Linked DNA regions of Homo sapiens. The protein of the gene in region 1 interacts with the protein of each later gene in a pairwise test. Each region holds a gene or a part of one and is shown on either strand. Other genes may lie near its edges.

Evidence for each region. The genes of interacting proteins can lie anywhere in the genome.
Region 2: the proteins of PABIR3 (region 1) and RPS6KA3 interact in binary tests that used the Homo sapiens proteins (3 or more experiments, as listed by UniProt).
Region 3: the proteins of PABIR3 (region 1) and ABCD3 interact in binary tests that used the Homo sapiens proteins (3 or more experiments, as listed by UniProt).

Annotation. Positions count from the first base shown.
Region 1 is NC_000023.11:134,803,147-134,810,252, forward strand, and holds the start of PABIR3 (PABIR family member 1), read left to right. Parts: upstream 1-4,090; 5' UTR 4,091-4,195; exon of another isoform or gene 4,196-4,393; coding exon of another isoform or gene 4,394-4,452; coding exon 4,453-4,562; intron 4,563-6,040; coding exon of another isoform or gene 6,041-6,227; exon of another isoform or gene 6,228-7,106.
Region 2 is NC_000023.11:20,172,910-20,179,935, forward strand, and holds part of RPS6KA3 (ribosomal protein S6 kinase alpha-3), read right to left. Parts: intron 4,176-7,026; coding exon 4,087-4,175; intron 3,608-4,086; coding exon of another isoform or gene 3,590-3,607; coding exon 3,525-3,589; intron 3,444-3,524; coding exon 3,341-3,443; intron 2,380-3,340; coding exon 2,255-2,379; intron 1-2,254. UniProt on the Homo sapiens protein: Serine/threonine-protein kinase that acts downstream of ERK (MAPK1/ERK2 and MAPK3/ERK1) signaling and mediates mitogenic and stress-induced activation of the transcription factors CREB1, ETV1/ER81 and NR4A1/NUR77, regulates translation through RPS6 and EIF4B phosphorylation, and mediates cellular proliferation, survival, and differentiation by modulating mTOR signaling and repressing pro-apoptotic function of BAD and DAPK1.
Region 3 is NC_000001.11:94,498,363-94,505,388, forward strand, and holds part of ABCD3 (ATP-binding cassette sub-family D member 3), read left to right. Parts: intron 1-239; coding exon 240-317; intron 318-420; coding exon 421-486; intron 487-582; coding exon 583-672; intron 673-1,132; coding exon 1,133-1,252; intron 1,253-7,026. UniProt on the Homo sapiens protein: Broad substrate specificity ATP-dependent transporter of the ATP-binding cassette (ABC) family that catalyzes the transport of long-chain fatty acids (LCFA)-CoA, dicarboxylic acids-CoA, long-branched-chain fatty acids-CoA and bile acids from the cytosol to the peroxisome lumen for beta-oxydation.

The DNA.
Region 1 (7,106 bases):
ATGTTGCAAGGAGGCAAAGGGCAGCACTGCAGAGGAGGAGCTGTCTGCAAAGAGGCAGGGGCTGGAGGGAGCTGGAGGGGGCTGCATGTGGAAACAAGTCATGCTGCTGGGGCCACATGTGGAAGGAGGTCTTTGTGCCCTAGGTCTCTCAGAACAATTTTTCATTGTTCTTCCCCACCTGGGGCCCCTTTCTCATTGTTTCTTACTTATCTTATCAGGACTCCACAAACTCTTTTAATCCTCACCACTTGAATGGCCCTGGGGAAGAGAAGGCCATTGCATTGAAATGTAATAGTTCTGAAATTGCTTTCAAAATTCAGCCAGAAATAATAATTTTGCCTGCCTCTTTTCAATTATCCCATACTAAACTTGCCAAGGCCAATTATCATTTTATTCCTCACTGTTTATGCTTTCTGCCTGCAGTATGAGGGATTTGTAAGTACTTTTAGATAGTTTCCTTTAAATTGCCTGTATTTTTCTCCCAGCTAGATTAGAAACAACAACCTCTGTTTTTGAGCAACTTAGGTATCTCTTTTTATCTCAAGGTCTCAGCAACCCTTAAGGCCAGCCCCACCTCCTACTCCCTGCTCAAAAGAAATTATAATACATTCTTTTGTTCACAATAGCTACTAAACAATCATTTGTTGACCACATGCATGCACTGACCTCAGGAGCTTAACAATTTAGGAGAACGCGAGGAGAATAATGCTACTTTGGCCATCATTTCTAGGTTTTATTAACATCATTCTTGCCTGCTAGTTTTTTTTTTTTTTTTAACCTTTCATGTAAATCTTTTGGGAAGGTTTGGGGTGTTTGTGGTTTGTAGATTTGGGTTTGACTTGTATTTGACTTGCTCTTGTGGTAACTAAAGGTTACAACGTAGCTTCAAGGTTGTCATGACAACTGGTAAAATAAAGAGCTGATTATCACATGTTTGTTGGTTCCCTTTTATAGGTGAGGGCCTGGGACAGACGCAGCAGACTGGGATATGCAAAGAGAGGAGTAGCCTAATTGTCAAGTCTAGATCTAACAAAAGCAGTGTCCCAAGATCATGGCATATTTCCCTGGAACTGGAAGGACTGATCAAGAAACACAGCTAGGTTGGTATAATAATGTGTGCGTAGAAATGGGGAGAAGTAAAAACAATTTCTTTAATGTTGTGTTTGCCATTGTAGCATATAGAATTCTTGCTGTTTTTGTATTACTTGTTCCTTTTGATATTCCAATTTGTGTATGTACTATGAGTCCTATTTATATCTTTACAGGTTTGGGGTTCCTGACATGTAGCTGTTCTTTTGTAAAAGAGAGCTCCTTCTCTTTGATAATAGCTGTAAACTTATTACCATCTCATATATTTAGTTATTTCATATTACTCCTTTTCTTAGAAACATAGTCCCTTAGTCACTCTTCCCTTGTCATTTTATTATACCTATTTTCTTAGTGTTGTTGTACTTATTTAAAAATTAGATACTTGTAATGCTTAGGCAGGATGAAATTTTGTCTATTTATTCAAAATATACGTATGAAACCTTACTACCTGCCAAGAATACTAGCAAAAGTTGAAAATTAAAATGAACACAATGGAGGTAAGATTCCCTTGTTCACTGGCCTGCTTCATATTTTTCTGTTATTCAGACAATTTGTTTTTTGACTCTGTTCTGTCTTTAATCACTGCCTTCTGCATTCATCCTGAATTTACTCAGCTTTAACCACCATCTTTTATAAACGTTCAGGTACCCTGGGAATTTTAACAGTGGCTTTTAGGACATCTTGATACTAGCCTGAATTCTCCTGCTATCTAATTATGTGCCATTAATCTCTTTGGAATTTTATCCAACTGTAAAATAGAAATGATTTACCTACTTTACAAGATAACTATGAAAGATAGGCTATTTAAACCTGCATTTATTCATAAAATAATTTCAGAAGTATTTATCAAGTGCTTATGAGTACAGAAATTCAAGGAGATATTCTGAGGCATCTCATTTTTTTTTTTACTTAAACAGAAGGGCAGAGGAATCTTGGCTTTGCCACTTAGTAGTTGCAACTTGAGTAAACCCCTCTGGGCTTTGGTTTCCTCCTGTGAAAAATGGGCATTGTGATGGTGCCTACCTCAAAGAATTATTGTAAACTTTAAATGCAATCACCTATTTAAAGTGATTAGGACAGTACCTGGCACATAGTAAGTGCCCAACAAACGGTAGCTATTACTAATCTGTCTTATATAAGGAATGGAGACTCCACATCATCCTCATGTCTGGGATTTAAGTAATCTAATTCTGCCTAATATACTCAAGTTTGTCTTATTCTATTCCCAGAATGAACAAAGAATACATATTTATTACCTTACATGTCATAACTTGTCACGAACTATCTCAAGACTGTCCCATTATTTTAAGTTCACCACTGGGTAGCTGAGCAGGGTTGATGATTGAACCAATCCAGATAAGTATGTGAAAACATTTTGTAGGCCAGGCGTGGAGGCTCATACCTGTAATCCCAGCACTTTGGGAGGCCGAGGCGGGTGGATCACCTGAGGTCGGGAGTTCGAGACCAGCCTGACCAACATGGAGAAACCCCATCTCTACTAAAAATACAAAATTAGCTGGGAGTGGTGGCACATGCCTGTAATCCCAGCTACTCTGGAGGCTGAGTCAGGAGAATCGCTTGAACCAGGGAGGTGGAGGTTGTGGTGAGCCAAGATTGCGCCATTGCACTCCAGCCTGGGCAACAAGAGCGAAACTCCGTCTCAAAAAAAAAAAAATGTTATCCGTAAAGTGCTATACCAGTGTTATGACTATTTTAATTAATAACTCCCATTTCACTAGGTTTATTTGCCTTGTCTGCCAGTTCTCTATATGGTTACTAAAATGTGTGGTTTTACAAAATTATTAGCATGGAGTTAAGATTTCAGTACTCAGTGTGGCTCATTAAGTGATGGTGAAAATTTCTAAAAGAGTAGTTCTTAAAACGATATGAGCCATGGCAGCATTCTTAGAATGTATGTAGCTTCTAATACTACCTGAAATGAAAACACTGATTTGCATTGATACTAAATTCTGAGATATTTGTTTTTAAAAAAGCCTCACTGCTTTAACTCAAATCTTTGTAAATTAGCTGAGGTCTTTATTTTTTATATGAATAGCTGTGAGGAGCCAGATTATATATAATGTAAAAATACACACTGAGGCAGGCGCGGTGGCTCACGCCTGTAATCCCAGCACTTTGGGAGGACGAGGCGGGCGGATCACCTGAGGTCCAGGAGTTCGAGACCAGCCTGGCCAACATGGTGAAACCCCGTCTCTACTAAAATACAAAAATTAACCAGGCGTGGTGGCGAGCACCTGTAATCCCAGCTACTCGGGAGGCTGAGGCAGGAGAATCGCTTGAACCTGGGAGGTGGAGGTTGCAGTGAGCCGAGATCGCGGCCACTGCACTCCAGCCTGAGCAACAAGAGCGAAATTCCATCTCAAAAAAAAAAAAACAAAAAACTGTACGATTATGGTTTAAAAAAGAAAGAAAGAAACCACACTGAAAACAGTAATTCGTTTGCCAAATGAGCTCAGTTAGGTTAGCACCTTAGCAAGACCCTTTGGGACCAAGTGGCCTCTAAGCACTTAGGTAGCAGTATCTTTTTTTTTTTTTTTTTTTCAGACTTTTGCTTTTCTAAAATTACAAAGGTGTAGTGTGTCTGCTGTTACAGGATGGAAAAATGCATCATAGGAGGTTAGAAGCTTGTTGGCCTCAGTCATAAAGGGATAAGAAAAATGAGAATTAGGCATAGGGCAGGAAGGACCTCACTCCTCCCAACGCTTTCATTTCTAAATAATGCTTAAGGAAACCATGCCAGGGTTAGTAAAAGAGTAGAGGCACAACCACGGTAAGTGGGCATTGGGGAAAGAGGAAGGAGGGCAGGACATGGGGATAAAGCGGTTTCTTAACTGCGCGTGCGCCCCTGGCAAAGCTGACTAAGGCGCCTGAAGTGACGTCATTGCCTGCATCACAACAGGCGTCGTCCGGCTGATAGCTTATCGCAGGCTCTGAGGGGCGGGACCCAACTGATTGTCAAAGGCGGCAGATTGTAGTTTTTGTTTTGGCCGGAAAGGCTTACCATGAGTTGCCAGGGCTGAGAGAGATGGAGAAGGATTCGCGGCGGTGACAGATTAAATTCCCCAGTTACATTATAGACTTGGAGGTGGGGGATCTTCTCATCGTTAGAGGCCCCGATCATGGGAGATAGGCGGTTCGGAGCCAGTTCTGCCTAACTTTGTGTTCACTGATGTTAGGGCTGCTAGGGCTGCAAAGGTGGGCACCCCTACTCGCCTAAGAGCTTTCTCCTCTCTTCTCTTTTTCCCCTTTGCCTCTCTCCTTACATCACCTGCCCACTAAGTAGACTTGTCCTTGTGTGGACGGGAGCCGGAAAGCCTTGAGAACTTATTCCTCGACCCGGACATGGCACAGGAGAAAATGAAACTAGGTTTCAAGTCGCTGCCGAGTTCCACTACCGCAGACGGCAACATTCTGAGAAGAGTCAACAGTGCCCCTTTGATCAATGGACTTGGGTGAGCCGGGTTGAGATACTGGAGGAGGCAAGCGGTGGGGAGGAGGTGTTCGGGAAAGTGATTTCCTATAGAATTCCCGTCCCTTTATTTGTTGAGGTTCTGCAGGTAACTCCCTTGTTCCTGGTGTCCGGAGATCCCACCCTCAACCTTGGGTGGGGGTAGTGGGACGGGCTGACCTGAGGGGGAGCGCGCACCCACCCTGAGGTTGACAAACATCTGAATCTGAACATCCTCCCCTGATAGTCCACTCGGACCCGAAAGTAGCAGCCAGTTGGTGTGGAGCACGGCTTTTTTCTAACTTCAACCCATTTCTTACCCACTCCTTTGAAGAAACTTAGTATCCTCCCCCACTCACCTCCAGATCTTCTGCCATGACTGTAATATTTGTCATTTCAGCTGCTTTGTCACCTCTGACCTTCACCTCCAGCCGCTTGAATGGAAATGGTTGTCAAGCAAATAAGCTTTGGACTTTTTTACATTTTTTTTTTTGTCTTTTTTTGAGACGGAGTCTTGCTCTGTCGCCCAGGCTGGAGTGCATTGGCACGATCTCAGCTTACTGTAACCTCCGCCTCCTGGCTTCAAGCAATTCTCATGCCTCAGCCTCCCTAGTAGCTAGGATTACAGGCGCCCACCACCACACCTGGTAATTTTTTGTATTTTTATTTTTTATTTATTTGTTTATTTATTTTTGAGACGGAGTCTCACTCTGTCGCCCAGGCTGGAGTGCAGTGGCGTGATCTCGGCTCACTGCAAGCTCCACCTCCCGGGTTCACGCCATTCTCCTGACTCAGCCTCCCAAGTAGCTGGGACTACAGGCGCCCACCAACACTCCCGGCTAATTTTTTGTATTTTTAGTAGAGACAGGGTTTCACCGTGTTAGTCAGGATGGTCTTGATCTCCTGACCTCGTGATCCGCCCGCCTCGGCCTCCCAAAGTGCTGGGATTACAGGCGTAAGCCACCGTGCCCGGCCTAATTTTTTGTATTTTTAGTAGAGACAGGGTTTCACCATGTTGGCCAGGCTGGTCTCGAACTCCTGGCCTCAGGGGATCCGCCTGCCTCAGCCTCCCAAAGTGCTGGTATTACAGACGTGAGCCACTGCTCCTGGCCTACACCTATTTTTTATTGGAGCAGAAAGTTTTGGTACCACAGAAGCTTGATCTCCTAAATTACACATTCTCACTGGGTGATACTTCCCCCAAGGGGAAGAGAAAATAGTTCTTGGGGGAGTGTGAAAAATTTTTACTCTTTTTATGTATAAAGCGCAGATATACATACAGTATGTACACAGATATATACTATATATGTGTTATTAAAATTTCACGAAGGGGGAGCAATTAGGGGAAAAATGTCTAAAAAGGCTTTTTAGAGGGTCAATAATGAAAAAAGGATTTAGAAACACTACACTAAATGATGGTTAACTGTATTTCTGAAGATCTGGGATTACTAAATCTTGTTTCCTTTTTTTTTTTTTTTTAAGACGGAGTCTCACTGTGTCGCCCAGGCTGGAGTGCAGTGGCATGATCTCGGCTCACTGCAACCTCTGCCTCCCGGGTTCAAGCGATTCTCCTGCCTCAGACTCCCGAGTAGCTGGGACTTCAGGCACCCGCCACCACGCCCACCTAATTTTTTGTATTTTTAGTAGAGACGGGGTTTCACCGTGTTAGCCAGGATGGTCTTGATCTCCTGACCTTGTGATCCGCCCACCTTGGCCTCCCAAAGTGTTGGGATTACAGGCGTGAGCCACTGCGCCTGGCCTAAATCTTACTTCTTAAACTAGACTTTTAAAATGAGATGTTGGATTTCACATTTCAGTATTATAAGGTTTTCTAGATACCGTAAAAATGTCTGAAAAATGCATTCACTACATATGTTACTAACTTTGCTCTTCACCTTTTGTTGCATCATACTAATTGATAGTTGTAATTCACAGTACCATAGACTATCAGGAAGGGATTCAGAGACCAGCTTTACCCTCCTTGTTTAACATATGAGGAAACTGAGGCCCATAAATCTCCAAAATGACGTTTAGTGGCAGAGCCAGTACTAGGAAGCTCTGTTTCCTGACTCCTAAACTACTGTTCTGGCCACTACTAACCAATACCTAAGCTGATTAACTCTAAATGAATGCAGCTTTTGGGTCATTTGAGGTAGGAGAGAATATATTGTTCACAAAATGAAAAGCAAACTAAGATTGACCAAAAAAAAATACATTACCTTTTTAAAATAGGCAGGTAGAAAAACATAGAAGGGGGACTCTGCATGTTGTGCTGAGAACAAGAACATTTTATTCACTCAGGATTTTGCTCTAATTCTGTTGTGGGAAAAAGGAATTATGGGACCCACTCTACTAGTAGAAGAGAGCAGTAGGGAGAATGTTGGATTTATTGAAGACAATATAAAAAGAAGAAATAGGTTGCAAATAGACGATGGAAGATGTGTACTGGAAGGAACCTGTGGATCCTCTTTAATGTATTAAATACACCAGAGAAGGAGTGGACCCTTCCCTAATCCTTAAAGCCCTGGAAACAGAGAGATCTCAGTTA
Region 2 (7,026 bases), about 110 Mb from region 1:
CCTTTAGTGCATTTTATAATAGGGAAGTATGTTACTCAGCATGCATTGTTGATGCCCTACATATAAATGAATAAGAATAAAAATACATCTTTATAGTACTTATTATTCTACAAACAAGTGATTTTGAAAGTGTTTACAATGAAGTGTACAGCAAGAAATATGACTTAAAAAAGCTTATGTTACAAACAAAAATTGAATTTGCACAACAGAAAAAGCAGAGCTACTTGATATGGGGCCTACATCTTTGTCTGTGATTCAGCCTTATTCCAGTCCCCAGTCGGCTATAGGTTTTCAAGTACCTTTGCAAATGAGAAGTTTGAAACCTATGGTATAGAAGGAAAGGATTTAGGAGGATTCAGAATTAGAATATCTGAATTCTTGTCTCAGGTACACCACTTACAGGCTATGTAACTTTGAGCCTGTATTTTCTCAGAGGGTAATGGTGAAGATTAAATAAAAATAATGTATTTGCAAGCAATACCTGTTATCGCCATTTTGGACTTTCAGTAGCCACTCCCTCCTTTCTTCACCCTGAAGTCATAGCCTTACACAACTTATGCTAAAGAAGCTCGTCATGGGTTAGGGACTAATAACACACAGTAGATGATGAACAGCAACTTACTGATTCCATAAACAGGCTGAGGAAAGTTGTGCTGCCCTTGGCTATACTGATATGAGACATCCATGCCTATGAGCTTTGTATATGTTAAAACTTGAATTTTGTAGGATATACAAGTTTGTGGTTTCTATGTTAGGTACAGAATTTGTAATTTAAAAACTTGCCATACATTCATGTGCTTGCATAGTAAATGGCACAGACTATTTCAACATGAGCTCTGCTTAAAAACCAGTGTTTTAATTGTTTTTCTACAAAATGGAAAACAGGATAACTGACTCATGAAAAAACTTTAGAGCAAAAGCAACTTAATCATCAAGCAAATCCAAGTACAAATGATATCCTAAAAAGAATCCAATGCTTCAAAAGATATATCGAGTTCCCTTTGATTAGAAAGATGACTTAAGATTTGAGTTCATTTTTATTTCTTGTATCTTTTCTAAGGCAAAGGTTGACAAACTATGGCCAGTGAGCCAAATCTGATTCATTGCCTGTGTGTGTAAATAAAGTTTTATTGGTGCACAGCCATGCCCACTTGTTTATGTATTGTCTGTGGTTGTTTTGTGCTACATAGCAGAGTTGAGTAGTTGTGACACAGCCCATATAGCCCACAAAGCCTCAAGTATTATCTGACCCTTCACAGAGAAAGTCTGCCGACTCCTGTTCTAAGGCATCAAAGAACCAGAAGACCTCAATTCATCATAGCTGACCTGAAGGAGGCAGAGGGTGAAACAAACTCGGCATGAAAAACATTTTGAGGCACAGGAGAGGATATAGACAACATCGTCATGTTTATCTCAACTCTTTTAAAATTCTACTTTCTTTTTTTTTTTTTTTTTTCTGAGACAGAGTCTAGCTCTGTCGCCCAGGCTGGAGTACAGTGGCGGATCTCGGCTCACTGCAAACTCTGCCTCCCGGGTTCAAGTGATTCTCTTGCCTCGGCCTCCTAAGTAGCTGGGATTACAGGCATGCGCCACCACGCCCAGCTAATTTTTGTATTTTTAGTAGAGACGGGGTTTCACTGTGTTGGACAGGCTGGTCTCGAACTCCTGACCTTGTGATCTGCCCGCCTCGGCCTCCCAAAGTGCTGGGATTACAAGCATGAGCCACCGCACCTGGCCTAAAACTCTACTTTCAAGTCACATAGGTATCTAGGATTTTGGTTCTTGCAACCTTTTCGATGACATATGAAAAAAATTCCTAAGAGTAAAGTTAATGATATAAAATGTATTTTATTTTATTTTTTGAGACAGAGTTTCAACTCTGTCACCCAGGCTGGAGTGCAGTGGTGCGATCTCCGCTCACTGCAACCTCTGCCTCAGAATCAAGTGATTCTTGTGCCTCAGCCTCCTGAGTACCTGGAATTACAGGCACGTGCCACTATGCCCAACTCATTTTTGTATTTTTAGTAGAGATAGGGGTTTCACCATGTTGGCCAGGCTGGTCTTGAACTTCTGACCTCAAGTGATCCAACTGCCTTGGCCTCCCAAAGTGCTGGGATTACGGGTGTGAGCCACTATGCCCAGTCTAAAATGTATTTTAAATTGCTCACTTGAAGTCAGTAGAAAAAGATCTATTCACAGAATGAACTATATCTTACAACATTCCAAATCTAAAATTATTTAGACATCCACTCACCTGAACAATTGAATGTACACCAACTGTCTGCATAGCTTGGCTTTCATCATCTGAGGTAATAGCAACAAAACTAAACCCCCGAAAAAGCTGATGTGCATTAGCACTAGGTGGAATGCCAGGTGAATCTGAAAAGAGTAAGAAGTGACAAAGAAGATTCATTTGAAAGGAAATTAAGGGAAAAACTGTTGACACTATGACCTTTTTCACTTATTCTGGAATTCTATTTCTCAGGTACACAGTATATACCTCTTGCTTTCCAGGATACCTGTGAGGCACTGTATCAGATCTGTTCTGATTGTGTATTGCCATTACAACACCAACATCCTAGTCCCTCGGAGCCTAGAAAATAGCTAATTCATTTGAAGACTATAATACATCGATGAATTATAGGGTTAATGGTATTCAAAATTAATGCTGTCCCATGGAATTTCCTGAAATGATGGAAATTTTCTTTAACTTTACAGTCTGATAGCCACTAGCTACATGCAGCTTTTCGACATTTGAAACGTGCCTAGCGTGACTGAGAAACTACACTTTAAATTTTAATTAATTTAAATTTAATTAGCCACATGTGGCTACTGGCTACCATATTAGAAACTGCAGCCCTCAATAATAACCTAGTTGGGGTGGAACAGGGGAGATACAAGGTTGATCTACAGCAAATTTAGGAGATGTGAAGATAGCTTAGAGAGTTATCCAGGAAAAGATTTTCTTTTTTTCTTTTTGAGACAGAGTGTCGCTCTGTCACCCAGGCTGGAGTGCAGTGGTGCAATTTTGATGCACTGCAACCTCCACCTCCCAGGTTCAAGCGATTCTCGTGCCTCAGCCACCCAAGTAGCTGGGATTACAGGCACATGCCACCAAACCTGGCTAATTTTGGTATTTTTAGTAGAGACAGCGTTTCACTATGTTGGCCAAGCTGGTCTCCAACTCCTGGCCTCAAGCGATCTGCTCGCCTCAGCCTCCCAAAGTGCTGGGATTACAAGTGTGAGCCACCGCGCCCAGAGTCTGGAAAAGATTTTCTGATGAAACAAGAAAAAAACATATTTGTTGTCTTATATTTGGATTTTCACATTTTCTCCTTACCTTTGGGAGTTTTTGCAGTAAACTCAGGATCAAAATAGAATGTATCTTCAGGCCTGCCCGTTGCAGGTTTAAATGGCGGATGAATTTCTCTTCTATACAGTTTCTGGAGGGGAAAAAAAAAAGAGACTTAGACATATTTTAATTATAAAGAAATATTTCAAGCAAGTTTTCATTCTATACTTACATTCCAGTCTATCGTTGAGAAAAATGAATGTCTTTTAATTTCTTCAACTCCATCTGGTCCTGCACCTATCAAAAATGGATTCACTGATAATTTTATTTCAAGGAGAAATATACATATTGCTCAGCCTTTGTTTTCAATACTTGTCTAATTAATTAATTAATTAATTAATTAATTTTGAGACAAGGGCTTGCTCTGTCACCCAGGCTGGAGCGCAGTGGTGTGATCTCAGTTCACTGCAGCCTCAACCTCTCAGGCTCAAGTGATCCTCCTACCTCAACTTCCTGAGTAGCTGGGACTACAGGCACGCACCACCATGCCTGGCTAATTTTTGTATTTTTTGTAAAGATGAGGTTTTGCCATTTTTCCCAGGCTGGTCTTGAACTCCTGGACTCAAGTAATTCTCCCGCCTTGGTCTCCCAAAGTGCTGGGATTACAGGCGTGAGCCACCAGGCCTAGCCTTGTCTAAATAGTTAATAATTCCACCACAAAACAAATATCTACTCCCCGCTAAAAACAAACACCAACAAACATACAACATAAACAAATTAGTTAAAATTTTTACCTAATCTGTTTGCAGGATTTCGCTTGAAAAGCATTCGTAAAAGACTCTGCGCTTCAGGACTCAAAAACTGTGGCATTCCAAGTTTGGCTCTAAATAATAAATCCACATAATATTTTATTTTTTGGAGGCATCTGTATTTTTATTTTTAAAAATTCTTAAATTAAACTTTTTGAGATACTTGTAGATTCACACTCAGTTGTAAGAAATAATACAGAGAGATCCCCTGTGCCCTTTACCCAGTTTCCCCCAATGGTAACATCTTACAAAACTACAGTACAATATCACATCCAGGATATTGACATGGAGACAATCCAATGATCTCATTCACATGGCACTGGTTTTATTTGCACTTATTTGTGTGTGTGTTTAGTTCTATGCCATTTTATTACATGTATGGCTTCTGTATGAATATGTCACAGTTTATTTATCCATTATCTGTTGAAGGACATTTGGGTTGTGCCCAGTTTGGGGCTAATATGAATAAAGCTACAGTGAACATTTATGTACAGGTTTTCATGTGAACACATAACTGAATTTTAGTTCATAATCTAATAAGCTTTTTCATTTTTCAAAATTTTGCAAAGAGCACTGTGAAAGTAAGATCATTTGAATCCTAGTTCTGGCTCTGTTACTAAGAACTTTGTGACAGTGGGAAAGCCAATTATTCTGGGCCTGTTATCATTTCTTCATAAGCAAAGGGATTGGTCTCTAGACCAATAGCTCCCAAAGTATAGCCTCGGAACTCCTCCTCAAAGGGAATTTAAGAAACCTAACATTTAAAGCTGCTAAGAGAACATGTGTTTCATATGCCACTTTTTCCTTTCTATTCCCTTTAACAGCCCCTGAAGGGAAGGGGAACTGTGGGAAAGAGGATTGTGAAATATTGAAGATACACAGTCTAAAAACTGCTGGCCTAGATGAACTTGAAGGTCTGTTTCAGCTCTAATTTTAATTCTTTTTCCAAACCTACAAATTAAAGAAACCAATGATCCTGTAAGTATGACAATAATAATAGAGCTGGGGAAAATTCCTATTTCAGAAACAGATCCATTTATTATTCAGTGGGTTGTTATTGAGCTATTACATGCCAGACACTGTTTAGTGCTGAGGATACAGAGATAAAGAGAGCCCATGAAACTCATGGTCCATGGTGAAGATGGATACAGATAATGCTAGTACATTAAGAGACAAATGCAGAAGAACATATGCAAAGAGTGACAAGGGAACAGTAGGGGATATTTAATTTAACATGGGAGATTATGAAAGGTCTTCAATGCAATCTAAAGGCTAACAATTTATTCATTTGGCTAGTGTTTCCCCAAATTTTACTGAATAACATTAATCCCTCTAGATAGTTAGCAACAATAAAAAAATTCATGACCCAATGAGCTTGTAGAATGCTATTTATTATATCCCCCTATTAGACACACAGAATTAAAATACACTGCATATAAAAAGGCTGAGAAATCTAGAGCAAACAAATCAGTTTTTTTTTTTTTTTTTTTTAAGACAGAGTATCCAGGCTGGACTGCAGTGGCACAATCTCGGCTCACTGCAATCTCTGCCTTCTGGGTTCAAGGGATTCTCGTGTCTCAGCCTCCCAAGTAGTTGGGATTACAGGTGTGTGCTACCACACCTGGCTTTTTTTTTTTTTTTTTTTTTTTTTGTAGAGATGGAGTTTTGCCATGTTGACTAGGCTGGTTTTGAACTCCTAGCCTCAAGTGATCCTCCCACTTCAGCCTCTCAAAGTGCTGGGATTATGGGTGAAATCAGTATTTTCTAAGTATTTATTTCCAGCACCTCTTTTTCAAAGAATACCTATTAATATCTTGTAGAATTAATATTCTCTTGGACAAATCTGGGGAAACACTATTGTATTAGGTAACAAGGATGCAGCAGAGGTCCTGAAACTGGACTAACATGACTAGACTTATTTTCAAGAAGGTAACTCCAAGGGTAATAGAGAACAATTTGGAGTGGGAAGAGGTCATAAGTGGTAGGCAATCAACTTAGGAATGTGGTCAGATAGTATGGGTAAGAGGTCACTGTTTTCTGAATACTTTAAGCAGTTTAATTCAGAGGAAAGGCTGGAACAGTGAAATAATTCTGAGATCGAATTTGGAGAATACCTAATTATGCAAAAGAGAGAAGGAATAAAAAATGATTTCCTGGTTTCTGGCTTGGAAGAGGGTGCATGAAAATGCTGATAACTGGGAGTATAAGAAAAGAACAGCAAATAAAGATACATTTAGTTCAAAGATGTGAAGTCATGCATGTAATATGTTTTGGGAGGGCCAGGCAGGTGAGTAAATAGAAACACAGGTCTAATGCCTGGTAAATTCATGTAAGAAAGAGTGATTTGAGAGTAATTAAAATGTGGAGGGTAGTTATAGGAAAGACTGAAGTCAGTCAGGAAAGAGTGCAGAGGGGGAAGAAAAGCATATCATAGACGGATCCTGGGGGATAAGACCATTTAAAAGGTAGTCAGAAAAAGAACAATTAGGGCATTAAAAATAATGACTGCAATTGGCTGAATCACACTGATTATTAAATCCCATGAGTTTATTATGTAAAGTAAGAAAAAGCAAAGTCAAAATACAAAAACTCGACTCACTGGATACTACCCCCACTAGGAAGTAACTAGGGCTCTGACATTAGAAACAATTTAAGAAAAGAATTAAGTATTTATTCTCTTTTTCTTGGATGAGCGTTATTTCAAGTAATTAAATCATCATAGTTGATGAGGGAAAGTTTGTTGAGAAAATACCAGCTAATAAATGAGGAAGGAATAATAATAATAATAGAAAATCATGGCTGGTGCATAGTGGCTCATGCCTGTAATCCCAACACTTTGGGAGGCGGAGGTGGGAGGATCACTTGAGCCCAGGAGTTTGAGACCTGCCTGGCAACATAGCAAGATACCATCTGTACAAAAGATTA
Region 3 (7,026 bases), on another chromosome or scaffold:
TACCCAGCAATAATAATTTTTTAAGTGAAAAAAAAGTAATGGTAAAAATTGGAAGTAAACAAAGTAAAAGGTCCCTTCACAATACCTCTTCACTGCTCTACCTAATGCTACATTTACAGACAAATAGAAGGCTTATAATTAGCCAGGAGCTATTAATATTTGAGTCTAAGGAAATGTTGATTAAGTATATGTTAATTTGATTTAATTACTTCACAGACTGATTTTTTTTTTTTTTTCAGGTTCGATCTGGGGCTAATGTTCTAATTTGTGGTCCAAATGGCTGCGGAAAGAGTTCACTTTTCCGTGTTCTTGGTGAAGTAAGTACAAGTTGGCCTCAAAATTTTGCAGTCTTATTTTGCCATACTGTCTACCACTTTGTAAATTTTACAATTGTTCTTCTCCCTTCTCTCTCTTTAATAGTTATGGCCTCTTTTTGGAGGACGTCTAACTAAACCTGAAAGAGGAAAATTATTTTATGTTCCTCAGGTAAGACCTAGCTTGAGTTATCTTTGATCTAAAGATCTTTTTGTTTATTTATTTTTTCATGTTGCTTCTAATTGACTTTTGCTCTACTACTGTCAGAGACCTTACATGACCCTTGGAACACTTCGAGATCAAGTGATATATCCAGATGGACGAGAAGATCAGAAAAGGAAGGGAATTTCTGACCTAGTAAGGGAATGTTTATATCCTAGATCCACTGAAAATACTCCAGATTATTTATTTTAATCAATTAAGTATTTTAAATGCCAGGTAGTTTATCTTAAGCTGTAAAGCCTTCCAAAGCTGTAAATTGTGATTTTCTAAGCTGAGGTAAGATGTTAATCCCTTGGCTTAAAAAGAGTTTAATCTTAACCTTTACACCATTGTTTGTTTTCTCATTGCCATCATCCTTTTACTGTGTACAATAGTGTTATTCTCTTTAAGCTACTAGACATATTTTGTCAAGTTTGGTGTAGATACTAGGAGCTGAAAGGTTCAGGGCTACCTTGTGCCACATTCTTTTCTGAAATGTATCTTTTAAGTGGTACAGACAATAGAATTATAGTGATTCCAGTTTAAAAAATAAACCACTATTAAGAATGTTGGCTTATATTAAGTTTAATTTCATCTTTAATCATTTTGCTGAAAGGTACTGAAGGAATACTTAGACAATGTCCAGTTGGGTCATATCCTTGAACGTGAAGGAGGCTGGGACAGTGTTCAGGATTGGATGGACGTACTCAGTGGTGGAGAAAAGCAAAGAATGGCGGTAAGTATACTGTGAAGAAGTTGCACAAGAATGCAACTGGTTCCAGCATTTTGATTAATCAGGACACAAAGTTTCATCTTATATTTTTTTATTCAGCAGCTGTTTCAGTATGGATTAGTTTAAATTATCATAAAAGTGCTTGAAAATCTTTAACTTGCATGTAAATTTGGAATTCTGAAAAATTCATAAATACCCTGCCAGTATCTATGAAAGGAAAAGCTGCAGATCCGACTATATACCAATAATCCATTTTTCTAAAAGTTCAGAGAAACTCTGTAGCTCATTATTCCTGGGATATAAGGTAATCCTGGCTGGGTTATGAAATTTCTTCTCATGTCTCTTCCCTATAGACATCTCTTTTGTATCACTCAGGCTATTCTTTCTGAAATAGCTGAAGGTATTAGAAACGATCCATTCAAATTTTATCTTTATTCTGTTCTTGCCCTTTTCCTCCACTATTATATGTATGTTTTTGTTTCAAGGTTCAGTATCTACTACTTAAAGTTACTTAGAATTTTTAAGTTTTCCTAATATAAACAAGCATTTGAAAGAAACTACTTTAATTGTTATGATGACTAAACTTGTCTCAAACCAAAAATATGCGCTAAACACTACGTAGTAAGAATGAGACCAGCCTGGGCAACATAGCAAGACCCTTTCTCTACAAAAAAAAATTTAAAAATTATCTGGGCGTAGTGGCACACACCTATAGTCCTAGCTACTGGGAGGCGGAAAGATTGCTTGAGCCCAGGAGTTTGAGGCTGCATTGGGCTGTGATCACACACCGTGGCACTCCAGGCTGGGCGATAGAAGGAGATCGTCTCTCTAAAAATAAATAAATAAATAAAAATTTAAAAAGAACGGTAGTTTGGGTACCTTGTCAAGAGGGGCAACTTCATAAAGAGTCATTTTTTAACTATATATTTCATAGTTTGAATAGATCCAAGCAAGAGATTCTCCTCTCCCCCTGCAGAGTATGGAGATTAGAGAAAACTGTAGCTAAGGAAAGAAAGCAAAAGAAATTGGCTTATGGCAGAATTTCTGACCCATTATATTCAGGTTATATTCCACCTTTTTGTTACCTCCGAGTCCCTGATTTTGCAAGTTGTTTTTCCCAAAATCATACCCACTCTACATGAGGTTAATATTAACCTAATAGTGTGACTTGCCTGGCTAGTGCTATAACGTGAGATGAATCTAGTGTGAAGAGTAAATCATAAATGAGAGAGATAATAGCTATATTCAAAATGGAAATTAGGCTGAAGGAGTGAAAATTTGAAATGATTAGGCATTTCTAGAGTCAATTTAGAAGATGACTATAGAAATAACTGCAAAAAAGAGCTGCAAAATAACTTTAAATTTCTGTACTATGTCTTCAGAGAAAATGGAAGGATGTGGTTCAGAAATGGACACGACGGAAACTCAGAGAATGAATAATGAATGTACTTAAACCAAGGAACAGTGTGTGTGTGGTATAAAAGTACAGGAGGGATAATTTTGATTTGAAGATTAGGAATTCAAAGGCGTGCCCAGAGCAGTGGGGGGCTGAGGCGGGAGAATCACTTCAACCCGGGAGGCATAGGCTGCAGTGAGCCAAGATCATGCCACTACACTCTAGCCAGGGCAACAGAGCAAGACTCTGTCTCAAAAGAAAAAAAAAAAAAAAAAAACACATGATCCATAATAGAGGCGTTTGGGAAATGGGGAAAGCTCACCTGTGACACCACTGCATATATAACTGGAGCATGGCCAAGCCATTGTCTAGAGAATTGAATGTGATGTGTAAAAGAGAGCCTGTTGTTTTGTTTCAGAGGGTGGAAAGGAGAAGGCTAACGCTACAAATACTAACGTTGGTGAAATTAGGTAAAGATTATATATGTGTATTCATTTTACTGTCCTTTCAGTTTTTTGGTAGGATTGAAAATTACCAAAGTAGAAAGTTGAGGGGAAAGTAGGTATTAGAATTTTTAGGAAGAACAGACCTAAAAGGCCTAGCCACTTAGAACAGTGAGTCAGCCAGGGTTGCTCCAGCTAATGTCACAATTTGGGATATCTTGTGTTTCTGACCAAAAGTTATCTTTTCCACTCCATTTTTCTTGCTCTTCCTATTTAGTAATAACTTTTCTTATTTTGAATTATGAAAAAGTATATATGATGGAAAAGTGGAATATTTATTTAAGTATAAATTGGGCCAAACCCCTTTACCAGAGATACCACTGTTATAAAATTTTTAGTGTTTTTTTAATCCATTTTTGTAAATCTTTTTTTTTTTTACCTTAAATTAGCAACTATCCCCCTTTCTCAAATTCCCTGAGATCTCTAGAATATTAATCCTTCCCTTTCCTTACAATTGTTCAGTCCTTTTCTGTCTCTGCCTCCTTTCCTGTCCAGTACAGACTTCATAATCCAGGGTGTGGCCCATAGGAGATAAGATATATTTCTTAAGGAATGAACAGTTCATCCCTTCCCCTTAACTTCCTTTCCCACTTTTTGTGTCATCGTATTACCTAAATCCCAGCCCAGTTATTTGCCTTGGCACTTCTCTAACCGCTCTTCTGAGCACAGCTAAAAAACATCAGATGGGCTCACAGCATGGCTTAGCAATCATTTTACTTATTTTTATCCTTCTCTCATTTTTCATGACAATCATTTTAAAACTACCAATTTTGGGTTTTCTACCCCGTTACTTAACCCACTGCACTTGGCAGAATAACTCGCCTTCTACTTTTCAAAGAAAGATAGGCTATTATTTCAATTAAATGACAGCTAATTTTTATTGAGTGCTGAAAAGATGACAGACAGTATGTCAGGCACCTTACACAGGTGATCTCATTTCATCCTCACAACAGTCCTGTGAGGTAAGAACTGGGAATGCCCCCCTAGTTTTTTTTTTTTTTTTTGAGACAGAGTCTCATTCTGTCGCCCAGGCCGGAGTGCAGTGGCACAATCTCAGCTTACCGTAATCTCTGCCTCCCAGGTTCAAGAGATTCTCCTGCCTCAGCCTCCCAAGTAGCTGGGATTACAGGCATGCACCACCACGCCTGGCTAATTTTTGTATTTTTTTTTGTAGAGATGGGGTTTCACCATGTTGGCCAGGCTGGTCTCGAGCTCCTGACCTCAAGTGATCCACCTGCTTCGACCTCCCAATGTGCTGGGATTTCATGCGTGAGCCGCCGCGCCCCATTTTACAGAGGAAATTGAACTTTTGTGCAATTCAGTAGCTGGCCAAGCAAAGACAGCTAGTAAATGTTAAAGCTGGTGGTGGGGGCTTTGTCAGGCTTAGGCAAGCAGTATGGCTGCAGTGTGCATATGCTTATTCACTTTACAACAAGCTTGTCCAACCTGTGGCTCACGGACACATGCAGCCCAGGACAGCTTTGAATGCAACCTAACACAAATTCATAAACTTTCTTAAAATCTTATGAGATTTTTTTGTGTGTGTAATTTTTTTTAAGCTCATCAGATATCGTTAGTGGTAGTGTATTTTATGTGTGGCCCAAGACAATTCTTATTCTTCCAGTGTGGCCCAGGGAAACCAAAAAATTGGACACTCCTGCTTTACAACTTTCTTGTATTGTGGCATTAAGTAGCTGACAGCATAGTGGGAGCGAGAGAGACACATGTTGAGAAAATGTCCATGTCATGTAGTAAGTGTGGTGATGAATGTACGCAGAGAGTCCTTTGGGAGCAGAGAGGAGAGGCATTGGTGGAATGCCCTCAGATAACCATTCCTCTTAATTAACTGTGTGCTGCTCTGTCCTGACCTCCCTACTTCCGCTGTCTTGGAGGATATGTCATCCTTCTTGAGAAAGGCAAATACTTCCATCTATGTTTATGGAGCCTCTGTCTTCTGACTTTATCACATCCTTTTCCTTCAGTTATATCCCCTCCCGCAGCCCCCACCTACATTTAACCTCTTCTAGTCCTTCTCTTGTGGAAAGACATTTTTCAGGTCTCTTTGATCTAAAAAGCAAACTCTGCCTTAGCCAAAGCTTCTCTGTGATCTGTACCTTTCATTTTCTGCACAGTTGAACTTCTTCATAGTCTATACTTGCTGCCTCCCCTTCCTCACTTCATGCAAACAGGTGGAAAGCTGTTTTAGTCATTCATTTATTAGATAGTTGAATGCTACCCATATATAAGTGTCAAGTACATGGTAGTGATTAAAACAGTCTCTGCTTTTCTGAATTTTTTTTTTTTTTTTGAGGCAGTCTCACTGTTTCACCTAGGCTGGAGTGCAGTGGCACAATCTTGGCTCACTGCAACCTTCACCTCTCAGGTACAAGTGATTCTTTTTTTTTTTTTTTTTTTTTTTTGAGACAAAGTCTCACTCTGTTGCCGAAGCTGGAGTACACTGGCACGATCTCAGCTTACTATAACCTCCACCTCCTGGGTTCAAGCGATTCTCCTGCCTCAGCCTCCTGAGTAGCTGGGACTACAGGCACGCATCACCATGCCCAGCTAATTTTTGTATTTTTAGTAGAGACAGGGTTTCACTATGTTGGCCAGGCTTGTCTTGAACTCCTAACCTTGTGATCTGCCTGCCTCAGCCTCCCAAAGTGCTGGGATTACAGGCGTGAGCTGCTGCGCCCGGCCAGGTACAAGCAATTCTTGTTCCTCAGCCTCCCAGGTAGCTGGGACTACAGGTATGCACCACCATGACTGGCTAATTTTTGTATTTTTAGTAGATACGAGGTTTCACCATGTTGGCCAGGCTAGTCTCGAACTCCTAGCCTCAAGTGATCTGCCCTCCTCAGCCCCACAAAGTGCTGGGATTATATATGAAGTGCTTCAGAGGTGTTACAGAAAGGACCCACTTGGATTGTGGCTAGGGATGAGGGTAGGTTTGCCTGAGATGACATTATAAGCAGAAATCTGAAAGCTCTAAGGAACAGAATAAGGCATTTGAGACATCAGAAAAGAATGATGTGTGTTTAAGGCTCTAAGGTGTAAAGCACCTTGTTCCTAGCAGTTGAGAGGAGGCGGTGTTGGCTAGAATGTTGGGGTTAGAGCGTGAGTAGAAATAAGATTGTGCAGGTCTTGTAGACTGTGGTAAGGAGTTTGAGTTTTAAGTGAAATGGGAAGTTGTTGAAGGGTTTTAAGCCAGAGAGTGAAGTTCCCTGATTGACATTTGTGAAAGATGTTCTCTGGTTACATGGAGAGTGGACTGGAGAGGAGCAGCAGAAGTGGTAGGAGGCTACTTGTAGTCTATCCAGACAGGAGATGAGTGTGCTCTGGGCTAAGGGCATGTTTGTGGAGATGAGGAAAAGTGAGTGAACTTGAAACTTCACATTTCTTTCTTGAATGGACTTTTTAGTTCATTTTAAAAATAGCTGTGGGAGAGTGAAAGGGAAGAGGAAAAGGGAAGGACCAGACCAGGGAGGACTCCTGGCTTTCTAGCTGGAGCAACTGTTTGATAGTTTCATTTGCTGAAGTGTTCAAGATTAGGGAAGGGAATGGATTTTAGAGGGAAAATCTAGAAATTACATTTGAGTTTTAGACTTTTAACGTTTGAGAGTCCTGTGAGATACCCAAGTAGAAACTCAAAGAGGAATTTTTATTTTTAATTTTTTAAATGTTTTAAATTTAAAATGTTTGTTTTTTGAGATAGCGTCTTGCTGTTTCAGCCAGGCTGGAGTGCAGTGGCCTGATCATAGCTCACTACAGCCTTGAGCCTTGACCTACTGGGCTCAAGCCCTCCTGTCTTAGCCTCCTGAGTAGTTGGAACCACAGATGAACACCACCATGCTTGGCTAATTTTTTTTTTTTTTTTT